Linked DNA regions of Homo sapiens. The protein of the gene in region 1 purifies or fractionates together with the protein of each later gene. This does not show direct contact. Each region holds a gene or a part of one and is shown on either strand. Other genes may lie near its edges.

What was found. The genes of interacting proteins can lie anywhere in the genome.
Region 2: the proteins of HVCN1 (region 1) and FAM91A1 purify together in Homo sapiens (affinity purification with mass spectrometry; one large-scale study listed by BioGRID and IntAct). This does not show direct contact.
Region 3: the proteins of HVCN1 (region 1) and SLC22A17 fractionate together in Homo sapiens (co-fractionation; one large-scale study listed by BioGRID). This does not show direct contact.
Region 4: the proteins of HVCN1 (region 1) and TANK purify together in Homo sapiens (affinity purification with mass spectrometry; one large-scale study listed by BioGRID and IntAct). This does not show direct contact.

Annotation. Positions count from the first base shown.
Region 1 is NC_000012.12:110,685,516-110,690,690, reverse strand, and holds the start of HVCN1 (voltage-gated hydrogen channel 1), read left to right. Parts: upstream 1-1,575; 5' UTR 1,576-1,611; exon of another isoform or gene 1,612-1,895; intron 1,896-1,982; 5' UTR 1,983-2,066; intron 2,067-5,175.
Region 2 is NC_000008.11:123,784,835-123,789,468, reverse strand, and holds part of FAM91A1 (protein FAM91A1), read right to left. Parts: intron 4,389-4,634; coding exon 4,350-4,388; intron 3,841-4,349; coding exon 3,728-3,840; intron 2,975-3,727; coding exon 2,859-2,974; intron 2,209-2,858; coding exon 2,096-2,208; intron 1,806-2,095; coding exon 1,719-1,805; intron 1,269-1,718; coding exon of another isoform or gene 1,236-1,268; exon of another isoform or gene 1,222-1,235; intron 1-1,221. UniProt on the Homo sapiens protein: As component of the WDR11 complex acts together with TBC1D23 to facilitate the golgin-mediated capture of vesicles generated using AP-1.
Region 3 is NC_000014.9:23,345,288-23,350,491, forward strand, and holds the end of SLC22A17 (solute carrier family 22 member 17), read right to left. Parts: intron 4,140-5,204; coding exon 3,985-4,139; intron 3,385-3,984; coding exon 3,219-3,384; intron 3,020-3,218; coding exon 2,874-3,019; intron 2,710-2,873; coding exon 2,604-2,709; intron 2,445-2,603; coding exon 2,227-2,444; coding exon of another isoform or gene 2,173-2,226; intron 1,926-2,172; coding exon 1,814-1,925; intron 1,650-1,813; coding exon 1,361-1,649; 3' UTR 1,031-1,360; downstream 1-1,030. UniProt on the Homo sapiens protein: Cell surface receptor for LCN2 (24p3) that plays a key role in iron homeostasis and transport.
Region 4 is NC_000002.12:161,162,824-161,167,457, forward strand, and holds part of TANK (TRAF family member-associated NF-kappa-B activator), read left to right. Parts: exon of another isoform or gene 1-538; coding exon of another isoform or gene 539-630; intron 631-4,634.

The DNA of each region.
Region 1 (5,175 bases):
GTCTGACCCACATGGTAAAACCCCGTCTCTACTAAAAATACAAAAATTAGTCAGGCATGGTGATGCTGGCCTGTAATCATAGCTACTCGGGAGGCTTGAGGCAGGAGAATTGCTTGAACCCAGGAGGCGGAGGTTGCAGTAAGCCAAGATCGCACCACTGCACTCCAGGCTGGACGACAGTGAGACTCCGTTCCAAAAAAAAGAAAAAAGAAAAGAAAGCCAGCTGCCCAGCAGAATTGGGGAAAGCCGAGTCAGTTGAAGCAGACAATACCCCTATGGGAGGCAGAAGAATGCACCCCCCTACCAAGATATCCACATCCTAACCCCTCCAAACCTGTATGTTGCCTTAAGTGGCAAAGGGGACTTTGCACATGTGGCTATGTGAAGGATCCTGAGCTGGAGAGATTAGCCTGGATTATCCAGGTGGATCCCATATAATCACAGGGCTCCTTAGAAGGGAGAAGACGCTGTGACCATGGAGGCAGAGGTCGGATTGAGACAGCCAAGGATCACAGGCACCTCTCCAGCCGGGAAAAGCAAGGAACACACTACCCTGGCGCCTCCAGAAGGCACAGCCCCACCCACACCTTGATTCTGGCCCTGTAGGACCCATCTGAGACTTCTGGCCTCCAGGGCTGTAAGATAACACATTTGTGTTAAGCCACTAGGTTTGTGGTGATCTGTTAACAGCGGCATGAGGAAACTAACACAACCCCAAGGAGGTGAGCCTCTCCCCACAGCCCCGACTCAACCGGAAGGGAGAGGTGTGCAGAAGACGGCTTTGCAGGATGTTTGGGACAAATGGTCTCTGGGGGAAGACAGAAGCTAACAGAACTGATTCGACTGTGTGAACAGGGTGCTGGGAGGGCCCACAGGGGAGGGACTTCAGAGCTGGGCCTGCGCCTGCGGGGCCGTACGAGTTGGCCCGGAGCAAGGCGGCCCAGGACAGGCAGGGGCTGCACGCGGTAAGGCTCCCTCTTGCCAGTACCATCCCATGAGCAGCCTCAGAGCCCTCGACCAAGGGAAGTTCTGAGGGCTGAGAGGTTGCTCATTCGTCAGAGCGTGCTGCCCACCCTCCACCCCTGCATGGCAGAAACTGTGCAGGGGACGAGGCCAAGGAATCAGGAGACCCAGAGGCAGGGGTGGCCCGGAGACGGTGGGATGGAGCAGAAGCTCCCCGAAAGGGGTTGGCGGGGTGGATTCGCCCCGCTCCAGCCGGCGGAGGAAGGAAGTGGTTCCCCCGCCCACCCTTCCCTTAGGCTGGCCCGGGGCAGGATTTTTGTGATCCGCGATTCGCTCCCACGGGCGGGACCTTTGTAACTGCGGGAGGCCCAGGACAGGCCCACCCTGCGGGGCGGGAGGCAGCCGGGGTGAGGGAGGTAGGGACGAACGGGTGGACTGACCACAGGCAGGGACAAGGGGACTAAGACCCGGGCCGAGGCCTAGAAGCCCGCCGACCGTTGGGGGTCTGCGGGCTGTGGGGGCGGGGACGGGGGCGGGGGCGGCCCGGGCGGGGGCGGGGCCTGGTACGGTACGGGGCGGGACGGGCTGGGCCGGACCTGCTCTGAGGCTCCCAGTCGCAGCGGTGACCGCGGGCGGGTGGGGCGCCGGGTAAGTGCTCGGGCCGGGCGGGGGGCGTACCCCGTTTGGCGTGCAGCCCTTTCTACAAGACCCCCAGTGCCCGATCCTTCCGAGAAGAGGGGACCCCCCCCCGCATCTCCGCTGTCCAGGCCTCGCCGTGGAGCCCCAGCAGGACCCCAGCCCTCGGTTGCCCTCGGCTCTGGCGTGTCCCGGCGCGGGCGGGCAGTGCTTCCCCTCGGCAGGGACTGGAGTCCAGGGGAGGGGAACGCGGGAGACGCTGGCCCTAGTGACCCCCCGATCCCGGAGAGTTGGTGGTGCGCGCCGCCCTGGGCCAGGTGCCTTCAGTTCTTCACACTCCGCGCAGCAGCCACAGGTGACCATCGTCGTCTCCCTCTTAACAGGTGAAGAAACCAAGACGCAGAGAGGCCAAGCCCCTTGCCTTGGGTCACACAGCCAAAGGAGGCAGAGCCAGAACTCACAACCAGGTCTGTGTCCCCTAAGTCCTCGGATGCATCGTCCCTGCCCCGCTGCCCTCCCGGGAGATTGTAGGAGAGAAGCAGGGGCAGAGGCAGTGCTGGATGTCCCGGGAGAAGGCTGCAATGAGCAGGCCCAGCCATCCCTGAAGGAGGAGCCCCGGGGAAGCAAACTCTTCCCTAGAAACACTTTAAAAGCACCCACCTGTTGGAGACAGAGATGCTGAGGAACAAGAGTGATTGGGGCCAGGGTAAACGCCAAGACAGAGAGGGGAGAGCAGTTCCTCAGTGGAACTCCCTCCAACATTGCCCCCACCACTTTTACCAGTGCTGGGTGTGGGGGATCTTGCAGGCTCAGCTTCGTGACTTGGCCTGTCTCTGCCTCAGTTTCCGCATCTGTCCCATGAGGTTAAGCATGTACCTACCTCGCAGGATTGCTGAGAAGATGATATAAGATGCTTGGTGTACAGGCTTAGCCCCTGGCACCAGGTTACTACCAAAAGTTCATGGTTCCAGTGCTTCCTCCACCCTCCGTCCTGCCCCTCTGAGAGTACTTCTCTGTCCTGGGCACCTTTAACTTCAGGTTGTTCAGGGCTATCTGAGATCTGCAGGATTTCCGGACAGCCCCACCAGCAACTAGGAGCTGCTTGAGTAAGACCAAGGTGAGGGGGTGGCAACTTCTCTGGCTGACTCCCCAGAGGGAAAGGCTGATAAGGGCAGGGTTTTGAAAATCTCTGGGCTGAGGCTTGCACAAGGTCCAGAGCTGCTCTGTGGCCCCTGCCCTCCCCGACACAGGTTTAGCAAGAAGGAGAAAGCCAGAGTGTTCTTGTCCCCAGACTTGATCCTTTGCTAGTCATTGGGGCTTGGGCCCTGGGAGCTGTCATCCACCACCCCGCTCCTCGTCCCTTCCCCACAGTCTAGGCTAGCGACAAGTTCTAACCCAAAGCATATCCTGAATCCGGCCACCCCTCCACCCCCTACTTCCACCCTGAGACCAGGCCGCCAGCATCTCTTGCCGCCTCATCACGCTGGACCCCTCACTTCCATCCAAATCCCCAGCATCGCCTGCCAAGCCCTCTCCATGATCAGGCCCTGTGTGATTATTCTCAATTTTTCTCTCTGGCCACTGTCCTGTCCACTGCTGTCCCCAGCCGCCACCTCCTAAGTACTCCGCTCTCTCAGGGGCTGTGCACAGCACACGTGTTCTTCCTTTTCCCGGGAATGCTCTTCTCTGCAATCTGTGACATACTCCCTTGTAATTCAGGGCACACCATAAATGTCGAGTTGTCCCTGACCACCCCACTTAAGGAGACCCCGCCTGCTCCCTGGCCCCTTACTCTGGCTGGCTGGCTTCCCAGTGCTTAGCTGGGGGGGGGGGGTGTGGTCTGTCTTGTATATTTCCTTGCTTCCTTGTTTGTCTCCCCAGGTAACATGTCAGTCTACCAGGATCGTGATCTTGCCCTTTCCTCTTCACCTTGGATTTCCCAGAACCTGGGAAATCAGTGCCTGGCACCTAGGAATGGCTCAGATAGTTTTGTACAGTTGCAGGCAATGTGTCAGCCATCAGCCTATTTTTCTTCTCACTGCTTGACAGCATTTTTTCTCCCGTTTCTACATAGACTTCAGAATTATCCCTCCCAAGAGCCCACTGCCTTCCTCAGCTTTTCCCTAAAGTAGGGCTTGGGGGTTGAGGGCCACTTCCAGGTTTTAGCCATACTATTCAACTTAGCTATAAATATCATTGTCCATATTGTGCATGTTTTTGGCTATCAAATGGCTTCTTGGAGATACAGTTTCCTAACCAAGGTGTGCAAGTCAAGGGTGGGATCATTTTGGAAGCACTTACCTCTTGTGACCAGGTAGCTATTTAGAAAAATCATCCCCAGGAATGTGTGCACATTTCTCTGCAGCTCTGCAAGCATTGGTTTTTATCCTTTTTATTTGTTTTGGCTAGTTTAATGGAGAAGGGCATGGTAGTTTTAAAGTTTCTGTTGCTTGAATTGCTGAAGCTGAGTGTTCCTCTGCGTGTGTGCTAGTTCTAGCTCCTGTCTTGCAAAGGTAGGAAATCTCCAGGGCACCTTAATTTTTCCCTTCACCTCCTCTTGTGGTGATGGTTCCACTTGAGCCCCTCTCGTGAGAGCAGGTTGAGAATCCCAGGGGGCTGGTATAGGGACATGCAAAGCTGAACTCTGCTGGGTCCAGAAGTTGCTCTGCCAGTCAACCAGCGAGAAAGTCTAAGAGTCCCTTGCACCCTCAGCATGTAACTGTGGGGAGAGAAAGAACCTCTTTAAAGTTTTCTTGAAAGTTTATTTCAAAATAATTTTTTAGAATTAGGCCAGGCACGGTGGCTCATGCCTGTAATTCCAGCACTTTAGGAGGCTGAGGCAACGGATCACTTGAGGTCAGGAGTCTGAGACCAGCCTGGCTAACGTGGCAAAACCCCGTCTCTACTAAAAATACAAAAAAAAATTTTAGCTGGGCGTGGTGGTGGGCACTTATAATCCCAGCTACTCAGGAGGCTGAAGCAGGAGAATCGCTTGAACCTGGGAGACAGAGGTTGCAGTGAGCCGAGATCATACCACTGCATTCCAGCCTAGGCAACAGAACGAGACTCTGTCTCAGGGGAAAAAAAAAATTATAGAAGTTACATAGAGGGATCAGGTGCAATGGCTCATGCCTATTATACTAACACCATGGGAGGCTGAGGCAGGAGGATCACTTGAACTCAGGAGTTTGAGACCAGCCTGGATAACATAGTGAGACCCCCCTTTCTACAAAAATTAGCTGGACTTGGTAGTGTGTGCCTATAGTCCCAGCTACTCGGGAGGTTGAGGTGGGAGGATCGCTTGAGTCCAGGATCTTGAGGCTGCAGTGAGCTCTGATCGCACCACTGCATTCTAGCCAGGGTGACAGAGTGAGACCCCAACTCCAAAACAAAACAAAACAACAACAACAAAAAAAAAAGGGTGTGCAGGGTTATTTATGGAAGCGCTGGGGTGGGAGGAGATTGGAAACAACCGTAAATGTCCATCACTAGTAGGATTAAACACATTCCTACAGGGGACTCATGTGCAGCCATGACAAGGCGTGCACTTCATACAGGACACACTGGCATAGAACC
Region 2 (4,634 bases), on another chromosome or scaffold:
CTCAGTCTTGGTTGAGTTCCCAATTTTACTACATCTATGGAGATAGAAATTACTTCAACTAAGACTAACAATTTTAGCAATTGAATAATGCTAAGTTATAGCATTATATGTTACATGTTCCAAATGATTCAAATAGAGTGCTTAAACAACTCTAAAACCCGTATTCTGCTCCATCTAGGAAAGTACTCCAAGGTCACCAGTTTTACCTATAATTCTCATAACTTTGTTCACAATTCTGTATTACCAGTTACAAGAGACACTGGAGTCTGTGATTCAACATAGCTGTTCACCATTGCTGAACACACAGCTTAAATTCACTCAACAAAGATTTACTTAGTGCCTCCTATGGACTATGACCTCCCTAGGAGATAAGGATAGAGTAATGGACAAAACCCCTGCCTTCACTGGCCTTATAGTTTAATGTATGCTCTTCTGAATAAGTCTGAATAAGTCACCTTTTAATAAGTAGAGACATATATCCCAGAAACAACACAGAAAATGGAATGATAGGTCTACCAACGGGAAAATAACTAAATCAGATTTGCATACATTTAAGAAATCAATCTTAAGATCAAACTACTTAAAAAATAGCTAAGAATCCACTTTAAAAACTAAGCCTCAGACTGAAAGGCTTTCCCAAGAATGACTTTGTGATGAAAAAGAACATAGATTTATGAGTAAAAGAGCAGAAGTCAACTTGCAATTTGCTACATTTGATAAAAGACTAGCTGAGGTGAAAAAAAGATAAAAATCAGAAAACCAGAACTTGAAATGTGCAGTAACATAGTAAGAAATTTATTAGTAGAAGATAATATACAATAAGAAATGGGGTTAACAAATAAAGAAGCATGAAGAAATAAATGGCAGTATAAAGGTAAAAGTAAAAGAGACCAATTAATAGCAAAGGATTATCTCACACATATTTCTGCACTAATAAAAGTAAAAATCCTATGGAGTAGGAGCAGTGAAAAATGTTACAGTCTTTTTTTTTTAAGATATAAAGGAGTTGCAGAATCACCACAAATTCTCTAAACAGTGCATTGAAAATACAAAGTTCATCATAAAGCACAAAAGGCACGAAAAGTATTAGTCAAGGAACAGATTAGGCACACAAACTATTTGAATACAAAGAGGCCAGAATAAAATATCCGAAGAATGAAAAACACCAATAAAGGGCAATCAGATTTATTTAGAGCTAAGGAAAACTAGGGCTGTACTCACGGGGAAAAAGGTGGTTAAGAGCAAATATGGCTGAAGTCTTCAAGATGCTAAAAGGGATAGTGAGAGCGGACATAAATATGATACCCAGGGATATTGTTCCAGATTCAAGGTAAATGGAACAAAAACTTCAAATCAAACTGCTTAAGAGGTGATCTTAGAGAGTCATACCAGAAAAAAAATTGAAAGGCTATTTTAGCAAAAATTCAACTTAAAACATTACAGACTAAAATTTCTATACCCCATTTCTTCATTATCTCAAATTATGTTAAGAATTAGATGAGGTAGACATATCACTTTAAAAATCACAAAATCAATTCACCCACTCAATATGTTTAAGTCTAAATGACTGTAAGAGTACTAATTTGGGGAATGAGGTAGGAACGAGCAAGAATACACTGAAAGCCCATCCAAATCAACAGACTGTATAATTGGCATTCTGTCAAGCAAGGACAGATTCCAAATGCCCTAACATCCCCTTACATGCAATCTACATTTACCTTTTCTAGTTCTATAAGAAAGCTGTCCAGAGACTCATCTGAGAGTTTGCCTACTTCAAACATTGTGACTGCATGACTTTTCAAGTTCTGAAAAAAAGAAACAAAATATTAAAGTTCTACTTCTCCCTTTTTATGCTAAGCATACTATCAAATATTTATATTATCCTTTCAAATATATTTAAACTTAAGGATTGGGGGGTGAGGGGCTAATTCTTCCAATTACAAAAGGACCTTCCCTGAAAGTTATTATACTCCTCTAAGTCAGTTGTGCTTCGGGAATAAATGTAGTACTTTAAAAAAGATATAAAAGCATTAAATTATTTTATATCTAGTATTTATTTTAAACACCTTCATATTTAAACAAGAATTGGGCTTACTGGTGAAAGATTTCCCATCATTAAGAAGGCAGTAAGAGTGGAGTCAAACAGGAATGCGATGCGCTTCGTGTGTCCTGTAGACAGACTCAGGCTGCTTACACTGGCTGTGTCAGCTGAAAAACACCATAATTTAAAATCAAGTAAATGGAAATTATTCTTTGCTTACCATTTGGAGTGAAAGTATTTCATTTCAGCTTTATTTGATAACCAGAAAGTACATAATTTTAAAAAGGCACTATTATAGCCATAAGAAGTTCCAGCCATACCTATTTTGAAGCGCAAAGAATATTAAAAAGCATTTAACCCTAGGCCTTGTCCACTATGCTGTGTTTCCCTTTGGGCTTAGCCTCACTATTCTCTCGGGCTGAAATGGCTTTCCTTCCCTGACCAGCTGGCAGGCTCTTCTTCATTCTTAGCTCAAATAACATCTTCTCTGTGAAGGCTTCCCAAACCTCTCTAGCCAATTAAGGGTCTCTTCCTCTTTGCACCCTACAAGCATTATAATTGGTGCCCGTGTTGTTGTAATTTGTTTGGTCACATTCCCTTCTCTCTCCTTAGACTTAATTCTTAGAAGAAAGGTACCATATTCTTGTCAGTTTTATATACCTAGGACTTAGCACAGTGCCCAAAATATAGTAAAACACTCAAAGACTGCGTATTGAATAAAATCTAAACTAAAATTAGAAGGTAACTGTAAGAGTGTATGTTTGGACATGTGCCGTACCTACAGACAGACTCTATGTTAAACTGAGTTACTGCTAACCTGGATCTTCTTGACTATTTGTATCAGTGTCAGTTGCCGATGAAGCTTCTTGTACAGGACTCCTACTTTCCCCTCCATCCCATGACAAGAGCATCTTCTGTGGATCTAAGGTACTCCTATTAATGAAGAATGCATTTGCTTTTTAAAAATCATATAAATGACCTTACATTAAAATATCTACTGAAGTTAAGACTTAAATTATGAACAATCCATCAAAATTCAGTCTTATATTCAAGCCCAAAATTAAGTCGCAGCCCAAAAATGCTCTGCCTACATACAACAAGGGTTCTTAACTAAGATCCACGGATAGGCTTCAGAAAATTCAAGAACCCTTCAAGATTTTATGTAAAATATTTATTTGCTTTTTTTCTGGGAAAAGCCTTCTTAGTTTTCATTATATTCCAAAAAAGATCTGTAACACACACACAAGATTAAAAATCACTAATATAAAGGGCTCACCTCAACTGACAGGTTGAATAAATAAAATTTCTGGGCCAGGTGCAGTGGCTCACACCTGCAATCCCAACACTTTGGAAGGCCAAGGTGGGTGGATCAGTTGGGGCCAGGAGTTCGACACCAGCCTGGCTAACATGGTGAAACCCCACCTCTAACAGAAACACAAAAAATTAGCTGGGCATGGTGGTGCACACCTATAGTCCCCACTACTCAGGAGGCTGAGGCATGAAAATCGCTTGAAACGGGGAGGTGGAGGTTGCAGTGAGCCGAGATCGCGCCACCGCACTCCAGCCTGGATGACAGAGAGAGACTTTGTCTCAATAAATAAATAAATAAATAAATTTATGTATGTAAAATTAAATGTCTTTTCAAAAGGAAACTCTAATAGCTCATACTGAATAAATTTAAGTTACTTTAATCTGTTTACGGATGGAACATTCTTCCATGATGAATGAAGTTGATCCAAATTAATTACTTGTCCCTTCTTATGGGCAAAGCCCAATCGGCAATACATTGAAACAGCATTCTGAAAGGAATATAAAGGAAACTAATTACCATTTAAAATAAACTAGACATCACAATATTTGTAGAGAAAAAATAGTGTAATAGACTAATAGTGATTCTCAAACATTTTCATCCCGTAACCAGAAACTATTTTCAGTAGACCTGCTCCTCCCTTGAAGTCTTCATAAATGTATAGGAGGGAATGTTTCCAACTCTCTGGCCTTGCCCTCCCTACATCTACCCCTAATGAAGCAGGAGTTGTTGCTTTAACGGACCTCACTACAAGATACTGCTTGGGCTGCTTCTTGCATGAGTGCTCTCTTTTCAGTCCATGTGTTTGAATCCCAATTTAGGGCCCCTTTTCCTGCTCTTTCCTGTCTTTGCAAGTGCCCCTTTACTGTGCACGTTCTCTCAGACAGCTAACAACAATCTCAATGTCTTCGTTTCTCAGTAGCTTATCAAGATAAAAATCTACTAGTAAAATCCACTCAGTTATCACATCACCAGTAAATGAGTATAAAAATAACATACCTTAACCAGGGATAAGTCAATCTCAAGGACATTTGCAAGCTAGAAGATAAAATTAAAATTTATTTTTACATTCTTAGAATTAACAGCACATTACACAGTTGTAATAGACCAATATAATCATAATCAGCAAAATTTTAAGTTATGAATAATTAGAAGACTGAATAAATTTTGAATTCAGAACTTTCTTCTTTCCCTATCTCTAAGATCCTTATAGTACAAATCCATGGAGTGACCATAACAATTTAAGATTCCTTACTCTTTAATTTCGTCTCATTTAAAATAAAA
Region 3 (5,204 bases), on another chromosome or scaffold:
TGTTTAATCCTCATAGCAAGTCTTAAAGGAAGTTGGAAGCTAAGAGATTTGCCCAAAGTGGTAAAGCCAAACCAGATGTGGTTTAAGAGGGAGGCCCTGGCACTGAGGTAGAAGTCTCAGTTTTCTGCTGCCACCTTCCAGAGAGCCAAGAGAACCCACTCTTGCCTTCCAAGGAATGTGCCCAAAAGTTAGAAGAGTTGGGAAGGTGACTACAGTATGCATCCATGAAGAGCTCTCTGGGATCTAATCATGTCTCAGCTTTGCCACTCATTAGCTTTGTAACCTTGGGCCAGTTACTGAGTCTCTCTGACCATAAGTTTTCTCATCTTGTTTAAGAGAATAAGAATGCTGTACTGAGCTTCCATTGTTTTTTTCTGAGTGACACCCAGTCCCGCTTCTGCTAACAGTGCCCAAATTTTGCTTTACCTATTCCCAGTTGGGAGAAATAGGGGTGTGGGAGGCATGTTACTCTAGCTAGCCAGTGACATGCTCTCTGGAAATTAATCTTCAGTGGGATAACCCAAAGATTAAATTGCACTGGAGCTCATTCATCTAGAAGAAGCCCTGACAAAAATGTTGCTGGTTTTTGCTCCTCAGACAAGGAGCCTTCTCCGCTCCTGACTAGTTATTTTACGACGAGTTCTGCTTCTCCTTCATTCTGTGAGCTCCCACCACAACCTGCCCCACCAAATCGAATAATTCCCTTTTTGCTTAAGTTCATTAGAGCCAGTTTTTATTGCTTACAACAACAAACAACAACAACAACAACAACAACAACCCCTAATTGATCCAAACACCTACCTTGCAATGCTGTAAAAATTAAATGATACGAAGTGTGTCAAGTGCTTAGGCCAGTTCTGGCAGCAGTGCAAGCAGTCAGTAAGTGGTGACAGTTGTCTGTAAGTCACCACTGGGGGCAGGGCACAAGGAGGGAGAGGGGAGCTTGTTATCGGTGTGCATTCCACTGAGAAAAACCTTCCCCCAAGAGATAGAAGGACAAACAGAAGGGAGGGAAGTCCAGGCTATGATATGCTCGTTTATTCCAAATGTCTTTATTGAAACAGAATGATAGAGCAAGAAATAATGAGGTCTGGGTGGATGTCTTTGGGCGCAGGATGGAGCCCAGACCCAGTGGTTACAGTGTGGAGCTCTCTCCCTGTCCCCTGACTCTGGCCAAGGAAGTGAATGCAAAGCAGCAGGGAGGAGGCAGGGTGGGGACGGCCCTCTGAGCTCTCCGCGATGGCTGGCGTGAGGTGCCTCTGAGACTTCTGGGCAGCCCTGCCTTCCCTACTCAGTCTTCCCGATCTTCTTGCCACCTTTCTGTGTGGGCCAGCCTCCCGCCAGGGTACTCAGAGGCCGCTCAGAGGGCAGGGTTGGGGGTGGCAAGCAGCGGGACGTGGTCACAGCGGGTAGGGGGTGGCTGCCGCAGCAGGGAAGGCCGGCGACACAGCTCCCCGTCCCGGAGCACCTCGGGCAGGAGCTTGCGCTTGGTCTCCGGCAGCAGCATAATGCTGAGAATGCAGAGGAGGGCGCAGGCCGCCAGCACCACGTGCTGCAGGAAGGCTCCATGGCCCATGTGGAGGCGCTGGGCCGGGCCGCTCAGTCCTCCAAGCGCCCCTAGAGCCATGATCAGGCCCAGGCCACGGCCCCTGGGGGGAGACAGAGGAGGAGCTCAGCCCACAGCTGTAGCCTTGCTGGGCCCTTCTCCCGCAGCCCCCCTCCTCCAGCCCGCAGGCCCTGTCCTCAGGGGTGGGGTGGGGGAGCGGGAGGCGAGGGGGCCCGGCTCTGCCCCTGGGGGCACCCCTGCTCTCACCGGACAGTGGTGGGGATGACCTCAGCAGCAAGGAGGGTGCTGAGGATGGCGGCAGCTTGGGAGGAGAAGAGCCCAAGGACAGAGAAAGTGGTGATGGCAGCCTCGTTCAGATCTGCAGAAGCAAGAGGGATGATATGAATGCAGGTGGGGAGGTCAAGGCTGGCCTAGTCCCGGGTGTCATCCCCTTGGCTCTCTGTTCCCATGGCTCTAGCTGGGCAGGCTCTGGGCATTCAGTAATTGACTGGGAGAGCAGATGGGGCTGTGGGGCCAGGTGGAGGCTCGTGGAAGAGCTGGGCAGGGTCTGGGGCTTGTCTTGGGAGGCCTGTGCCAGAAGAAATGGCTGTGCCTGTCTGAAGCACCTCTGTTGGGGTTCCCTTGTTGAGCCCACACTGTGGGGAAGATAGGATGCTCACAATCCCACAGGCCCAGCAGGACCAGGGAAGCAATGCCGGTAAGGGTCATGGAGAGAAGAAGGATGCCCCGGCGGCCAAATCGGTCCACGGTGACCCCCAGGAAGACACAGGCCAGGGCTGCGGTGCCGCTGGCCAGCAGAGAGCACAGGTAGAAGTCCGATGGGCTCCCTCCTCCTCCCACAGGCTGGTAGCAGTGGCGAATGGCATGGGCAATGAAGCTGTGAGAAGGGGTGGGGAAGCAACGAACAGAGCCTGAATCCCCTCCCGCAGCCTTCTACAGTGCTGATGGTCCTCCGCAGGGGTCCCCGGGCCTTCCCACCCAGCCAGCCCCCATTCCAGCTACTGGCCTGGCCCTCAGCCCAGACACCCAGGCTCACTTGGTGAAGCCCAGGATAAGCAGATTTTTCCAGATGTTGCGGTAGTTGAGGAGGGAAGCAAAGGAAAAGGAGGATGTTGCAGGGAGAGGGCAGGTATTCTCCAGGTCTTTGGGAGAGAGAGAGGAGCTGTCAGAAGAAAACCCTGAGATCCCAGGATCCTCCCACATGGGTGGTGGGGACCCTGGGAGAAGGTGGCACAGCTACAGCCATGCAGAGGGCACCATCATGTGTGCAAGTGAGGCAACACTCACAGGGATCCCTGTCTCTTACCCTGCAGGGCCTCCTGGGCCTCCTCCCCCAGCATCTGCCCATGGGGCCGGTTTCGCTCAGCCAGGATCCTCAGCACAGACTGAGCCTCCTCAATCTGCCGCTTCACTATCAGCCACCGTGCGGACTCCAGGAACAAACCAGGCCAGCTGGGGGCAGGGGGGAAGGGGTATACTGTGAGGCCTCCCTTCTCCTGATCTAGGGGTGGGAAATGTGCACCTCTGAGGGACTGGGGCTGGGGTAGGCCTGGACCAGGGGTAGTTGGAGAAGAGGAGGGGTCTCCGGGCTAGGGCTAGTTTGGAGGCAGAGATGGGAATTGCCAGACGACAGGTGAAGGGTAATACTGACCCATAAAACAGGAAGAGGATGCAGGGAGCGGTGATCATTCGCTGTAGGAATCGCCAATCCTTAGAGACAAGGGCCAGGCCCAGGAACAGGAAGTGCCCTCCCACCCCCACCAACTCCCCTGCCAGGGCCACCCGAAGCCTCTGGGTTGGGTCGCACAGCTCCAGGCCTGGAGATACAGCAGGGGTGGAGAGAGGAGAGGGAGGCCAGGGAGGAAGAAGGCATAAGAGAGAAGAAGAAAGAGGGAGGGAGGAGGACAGAGAGAGAGGTCAGACCCAGAGTGGAGGCTGCAGCCATTGCCTCCCTTGCTAACCTCTGGGTGGCAAGGACTGGGGAGACTGTTCAGCCCTCTCTCCTCTCCTGCTCAAACCTAGGAGGGCTCTAGGGCCAGAGTCCTGGGTGAGTGTTCAACATTTCCAATTTATAGGCCCTTTCCCATCAGGCCTCTTATTTGACCTTCACATCAACCCTTGTCCAAGGTCACACAGCTAGGGACAATCCTTGTCCCTGGACTTACTGCTATCAGGGGAATAGCACCTTATTCCTTGGCAGCAGTAAGTCCAGGACAAAGACTTTAAAGATTGTCGGGAGGGGGAGATAGGTGTAGAGAGAAGCAAGAGCCCTGGATTCTTCAAGGGGGCCTGGGCAGAAAGATAGCTGAGATTCTAGGCAGCTGAAATGTGGCCTAGGGGGCAGTGAGGATGGCCTGGCGATGCAGGCAGGTAGGCATGAGACCCAAGGGAGGGAATTCTGGGAGGGTGCCACTTACGCATCAGGTAGACACCCAGGTCAACACCGGCAAGCAGAAAGCCCAAGAGGAATCGGAGGGCCATGACGCCTGTGGAGGAGCCTGCAGCAGCCCCTCCTACTCCACAGGGGCCCACCAGCCCCAAGGTCAGCAGCACAATCCCGCGACGGCCAAATCTAGAAAGTGGGAAGGGCTTCTGGTCACCCAGACTCTCTGGTGGTGGGAAAGTTGCTGGGTAAGACCCAGCTGCACACTTCAGAGCTAGAGGTATGAGAATGAAGTTCTGGGAGCAAGAGTTGGACAGAGGCTTGAGAAGATGGGGAGGGATGGGGACCATGGGTGGGTGATGCCTGGCTACTGGGCACTGGGGTGTGGTTGTGGTTCTTTAAGAGGTGGGAACATTGACTCTTGGGCTATTGGTCAGAGATTAGGGCACTTGTCAATGGATGTGACATCACTCAACAGAGGGGATGGGATATTGCTTAGGGGATTTGGGACCATTCATCCTTAGGAACAGAGCTAATGGTCAGTGGGCCTGGAGCTTATCTTGCTCAGACTGTTCAGAGGAGATGTGGGAGGGGGGTTCATTGATATACGGAGTTGGAACTATTAACCTGTGGAGGGGAGGCCATTGGCCACTTGTGCATGAGGATACTACTGGTCAGTGAAGGTAAAGCCAATGATATTAGGGGACTGAGTAATTGATTTTTGGAGATGAGGCCATTGTTCCATGGAGGTGGGACATTGGTCTATTAATACATTAAGAATGGTCAGGCTGGGCGCAGTGGCTCACACCTGTAATCCCAGCACTTTGGGAGGCCGAGGCTGGCAGATCACGAGGTCAGGAGTTCAAGACCAGCCTGACAAATATGGTGAAACCCCATCCTTACTAAAAATACAAAAATTAGCCAGGTGTGGTGGCAGGTGCCTGTAGTCTCAGCTACTCGGGAGGCTGAGGCAGGAGAATCGCTTGAACCTGGGAGGCAGAGGTTGCAGTGAGCTGAGATTATGCCACTGCACTCCAGCCTGGGCAACAGAGCGAGACTCCATCTCAAAAAGAAAGAAAAAAGAAAAAAAAGAAAGAAAAAAGAAAGATCAGTGGGGACATAGACATGGGTGTATTAATCCATAAGGTAGGACTATTGATCAGTGGGATGAATCTATTAATCCATGGGAATAATCAGTAAGGATAAGGTCACAGACCAGGGGAGATGAGACTATTGGTAAGTGATTATGGTCAC
Region 4 (4,634 bases), on another chromosome or scaffold:
GATGTTCATTTGGTGTGTATATTCATTACTTCTTAACATTTTTATCAGGAATGGAAGTTGGATTTTGTCAAATGGCTTTTTGACATCTATCATAACCTTTCATAGGTACTTTTCATCTTTGACCTAACAGGATAGTGAATTACTTTAGTATATTTGCAGTTTGTGAACCAATCTTACGCTTGGTCATGGTGTAATATTTAAGTATATATTGGTTCCTTTGGTAGCATTTTTATTTAAAATCAATGATTGAGATTCATTTTATACTCACCTTTTTCTGTTATTTTTGCTAGGTTTTGGTATCAAGGTTATGCTGGTTCCTAAAAAGAACTGGGCAGAGTTCCTCTTCCTCCGCTCTGATGTAGTTTAAATAGCCTAAGAACTCTGCTCTTTGAAGATCTGAAAGAATTCACTCATGAAACCATGTGGGTCTGGGAGTTCATTGTTCTTAAGACAGCAACAATACTCAGCAAAATGGTTCAGAACAAACAAAAACTCCTTGGAGTAAATACAATTGAATGAAAGAGTCTGGGACACGGTAATGTCAAGAACTAAGAACAGCTGCTGTACTGATGCTGGTTATTTCCCCCCTACACACAACTTTTTTTTCATGGACAAGGAAAAATGCTGTAGGTAGGCTGAGGCTGTTAAGTAAAATGTCTTGCTATTCTTTCTCTTCTCTTCTTCAGTTATGTTACAGAAGCAAGGGTATTGCTTCTACATGGGCAAATTTGTCTATGCCCTGAAAGAAACCAAGAGTGAAACTCAACTGGGAAAGCATCAGTTTCACTTTATTGTCACTAGCTTCCCAATTTTGCCGGGAAATTTCTTAATTTAAAGGTAATAACCAAGCTGACATTTTACTGTAGCCAAATCCTACAGAGGGTTTCAAAATGAGTGGGTGAAAAAATATACAAGCTTAACATGCTTATACTTATTTAACATGAAGTGAAAATCATTAGCATAGTTCAGGTATGTGCATGGTATGTGCACGCACATGGGGCAGTGCTGTCATCTAACAGAAGCCCACCTTTTTACTTGACTAATGGTTTACTGTTAATACCTCGATAATAGTGTAATCTTTGATAGACTTTTATAAATGATTATTTCAAATGCTTTTTGATCACCTTCAAGAATATGACCTGAGACAGGTAATGTAATTTAGCAGTTTGCATCTATGAACTGTGGAGGATACCTACAGACACTGAAGCGTTACTAACAGTAGGATGCAGGCATTATGTGAATGCGTGGGTATTTTATTTCCATTTATGGGCTACTATAGCAAAAATAATTGGGGAGTTGCCCTATGATGAAAGAAGACTGCATGTTTTTTAAAACCATACCTTTGTCCAAAAGCAAATGGTAAATAAAAATAGACTGTTGACATAAAGCTTCGCTATTTCGATGCTATGCATTAGCTGATTGACTGTTACTGTTTATCCTTTTTGTTTTCTAACACCTTATAAGCATAAAATATTACTGTTTAATTGCAGTTCGTTTGTGTTCAGTTACGTAAAGCCTAGTTTTAGTTTCTATTTCCTGTAGGATTTATGCTGTGGCTGCCATTTCCCACCTGTTATCTCCTATGCTTGCTGCCATGGTTTTGAATCATAAATACAGGGAAAGAGGAGGCTATTATTTAGATATGTAACAAAAATCGCTTTATAGTTCGGAACCAAGATTATGATTATCTTCAGGAAGGGATAACAGAATATGAAATGAACTACCTTTTCAGTGAGTTGTTAATTAATTTTCAAAGTCTTTTGAACTAAGTGCAGTATTTGGTCACTGTTCAAATAAGTTGAGGGTAACTGGTACCAAGCCCTATGCAACTGAAAACAGGCTTTGGGACTTATGTAGTACATGTGTCACATTTTCCAATTCCTAATCTATAAAAGCTTTTTAAATTGTGGTAAAATTCACATAACATAAAATTTACCATCTTAACCTTTTTTTAAAGTATATGGTTCAATAATGTTAAGTGCATTCACATTGCTATGCAACCAAGAAAAACATTTTTAAAGGGACGTATTTTTCTTAAGGAAAAGAGTTTGGGAAGTAAATGATGGCAATTGTTTGTCTCATGGAAAATTTCCTGGACAGTAACTTTTTACCTTCAGAGATATATTCTCTATAAATGGTAATTATCAGTAGTAAGTTATGAGAGTAAACATTTTGAGTACTAGTGATCTATAATAGCTTTTACTTAACACCAATACTTTTTTTTTTTTTTTTTTTTTGCAAAAGGAAGGGTCTACTGAAAATAGGTTGCTAACATTGACAACAAAGTATTTTAAGTCATTGCAGTAAGGAATTACTGGAAATTGAGTAGACAAAGAAAATTAATATGAGTTCCATTTTGATGGTTACTTAGCAAGTTGAACTTATGAGAGTCTTTGAAATAGTTGCAGTATGAGAATTGTTCTATTGAACAGCGAAACAACCCAATCAGGTAATAGTTTTTCCAGAGAGTGACTTGCTATAAGGGACAGAAGTTAGAGACTTAGATTCTTTCAAAATAAAGGATTTTTTTTAATTGCTTGAAGAAGGATTTTTGGAATCAGCAAATCAACTGTTATTGTGAGAGATTTAAGTGGTTTTACTATTCACAACCATTTATTATGTGGCATTTACTGGAATGTGGTTTCATAACCTCAAGTATTTGGAATCCCAAAAGTAGAAATGCCTTTCCCTTGAGATTGTTGTTTCTCAACCTTTAAAAATCCATATTTCCTTTCTGATAAACATTAAAATCTCACAAATCCTAGAGGATTGTAATACATGTTCCTTCCCATACAGTCCTACTCCTCCTCTACACCTCACCATACTGACTACAGACTTTCTCTTCTAGTTCCCTCATCTGTGAATATTATGCAAAGTCCTTCTTTATATGATTTATGTAATAGATTTTTAATATTAACTATTTCAAAATTGTATATCCTTCCTCCCCCATCTTCAGATTCTAACATTGCCCCTAGTCAGAGGAGAGGATACCCCTTAAAGATTACTCAGTTCAGCACAGCCAACTGAGCAGTGCCATGTTTACGTTCACCTCAGAGGAGTAGAACATCACATGCCTGCTTTCCCTTTTGGTGTTATACTGTTTAGTTGTGCACTTAAACCCATAACATTTGATAAATAGTCTCAGAGAAAGAAGTATTACTGGAGAAAAAAAGGAAGTAAGGCAAAACTGAGACTCATGGGTGTGGTCTTTGACAGTGAAATCTTTTAGCTCTTGCAAGATCACATAGAAAATTTCACCAAGTTCTAACATCCAGCAAAATGGAGAACATGTACTGGGGACCTTTGGGTTTAACCAGTGAGACTGTCTTGTTTATCCTGTTGCATTTAGCCTTCCAGCTTATGGAAAAATACAAAATTCAAATTCTAACACTGCTGGATTTATGATATTTAAGGTTTCTATTATATCAGCTGCCTGGATGGAGCACAGAAACAGCGTAGTACAATATGCTATGGGTATATTCATGACCAAAGTTTACAATGTGGAAGGAGAATAGAAATGCAAGAGGTCAGTTGGGGAATTAGCTGCTTGTGTTATATAACTCCTTAAAAGTGGAAAATGATCACAAGTAAATGTGAGTAGTGACAGTTCTCTTCCATTTCCTTTCTTCAGGTAAGGAAAACACACTTAATATTTTTGAGTGTCTTTAAAGATCTTCCTAACCATCCAAAAGAGAAGATGTCTTATTTATGTGTATATGTCGTGTTGTTGACTGATTTTTTTGCTTTTTACTCCTGATGTGTTTTGTGGGTGAGAAGGCAAGCATGTAACTAAGATACAGAAAAGACCAAGATGTAGTGGGGCACAGTGGCTTGACGCCTATAATCTCAACTACTCAGAAGGCTGAGGTGGAAGGATTGCTTGAGGCGAGGAGTCCAGGCTGCAGTGGGCTATGATTGCACCGCCACACTTGCTGCACTCTACCCTTGGGGGACAGAGTGAAGCTCTGTCTCAAAAAAAAAACAAAAAACAAAACAAAAACACAGAATTTGTCTTTCATTCACTGATTCACCTCTTTATGTACTACAGTGGCAACTTTTCTGAAATAGAATATGAACTCCTCTTATTCATAGCCCAAGGGGTTGGGAAAGGCTGGTGGCTTTCTTTTCTAGGGCAAAGTGGAAGGAGTAGCAGTTATTCAAGGTGGTTTCCTTTCCCCATCCTGAAACTGCTTTAGATTTGAGTTGGTCTCTCACCACAAGTGTGAACTCTGGCAGAACATTTACCCAGAAACAGAATAGGCTCAGCAGTTGGGGAAACCCAGCAGAGGGGCCTTGCCTGCCTCCCAAATTACTCACACTTGTCTCAACCACCTACAAAAAAGTAGACCTTACTAAAGAATGACTAATCATCCTGGGGTCAAGATGGCGAAAATCCTACCTTTAAGCCTTTGATTCTCTTCAAACGTGGAATTCCAATGTATATATACATAACTGATCAAAGCTCAGATGTTCTGGTTGAACAGGCAGTTAGAGGTGGAACATGATTTGGCTCATACACTGTCAGCCTCAGTGCAGCTCCAGAGGCACCACTACTTACCCTTGATTACTACTTTCTTTATCCAGGATTGGTTGGCTGTCATTTGGCAGGATAATGGCTGCCAAAGACAACAGAC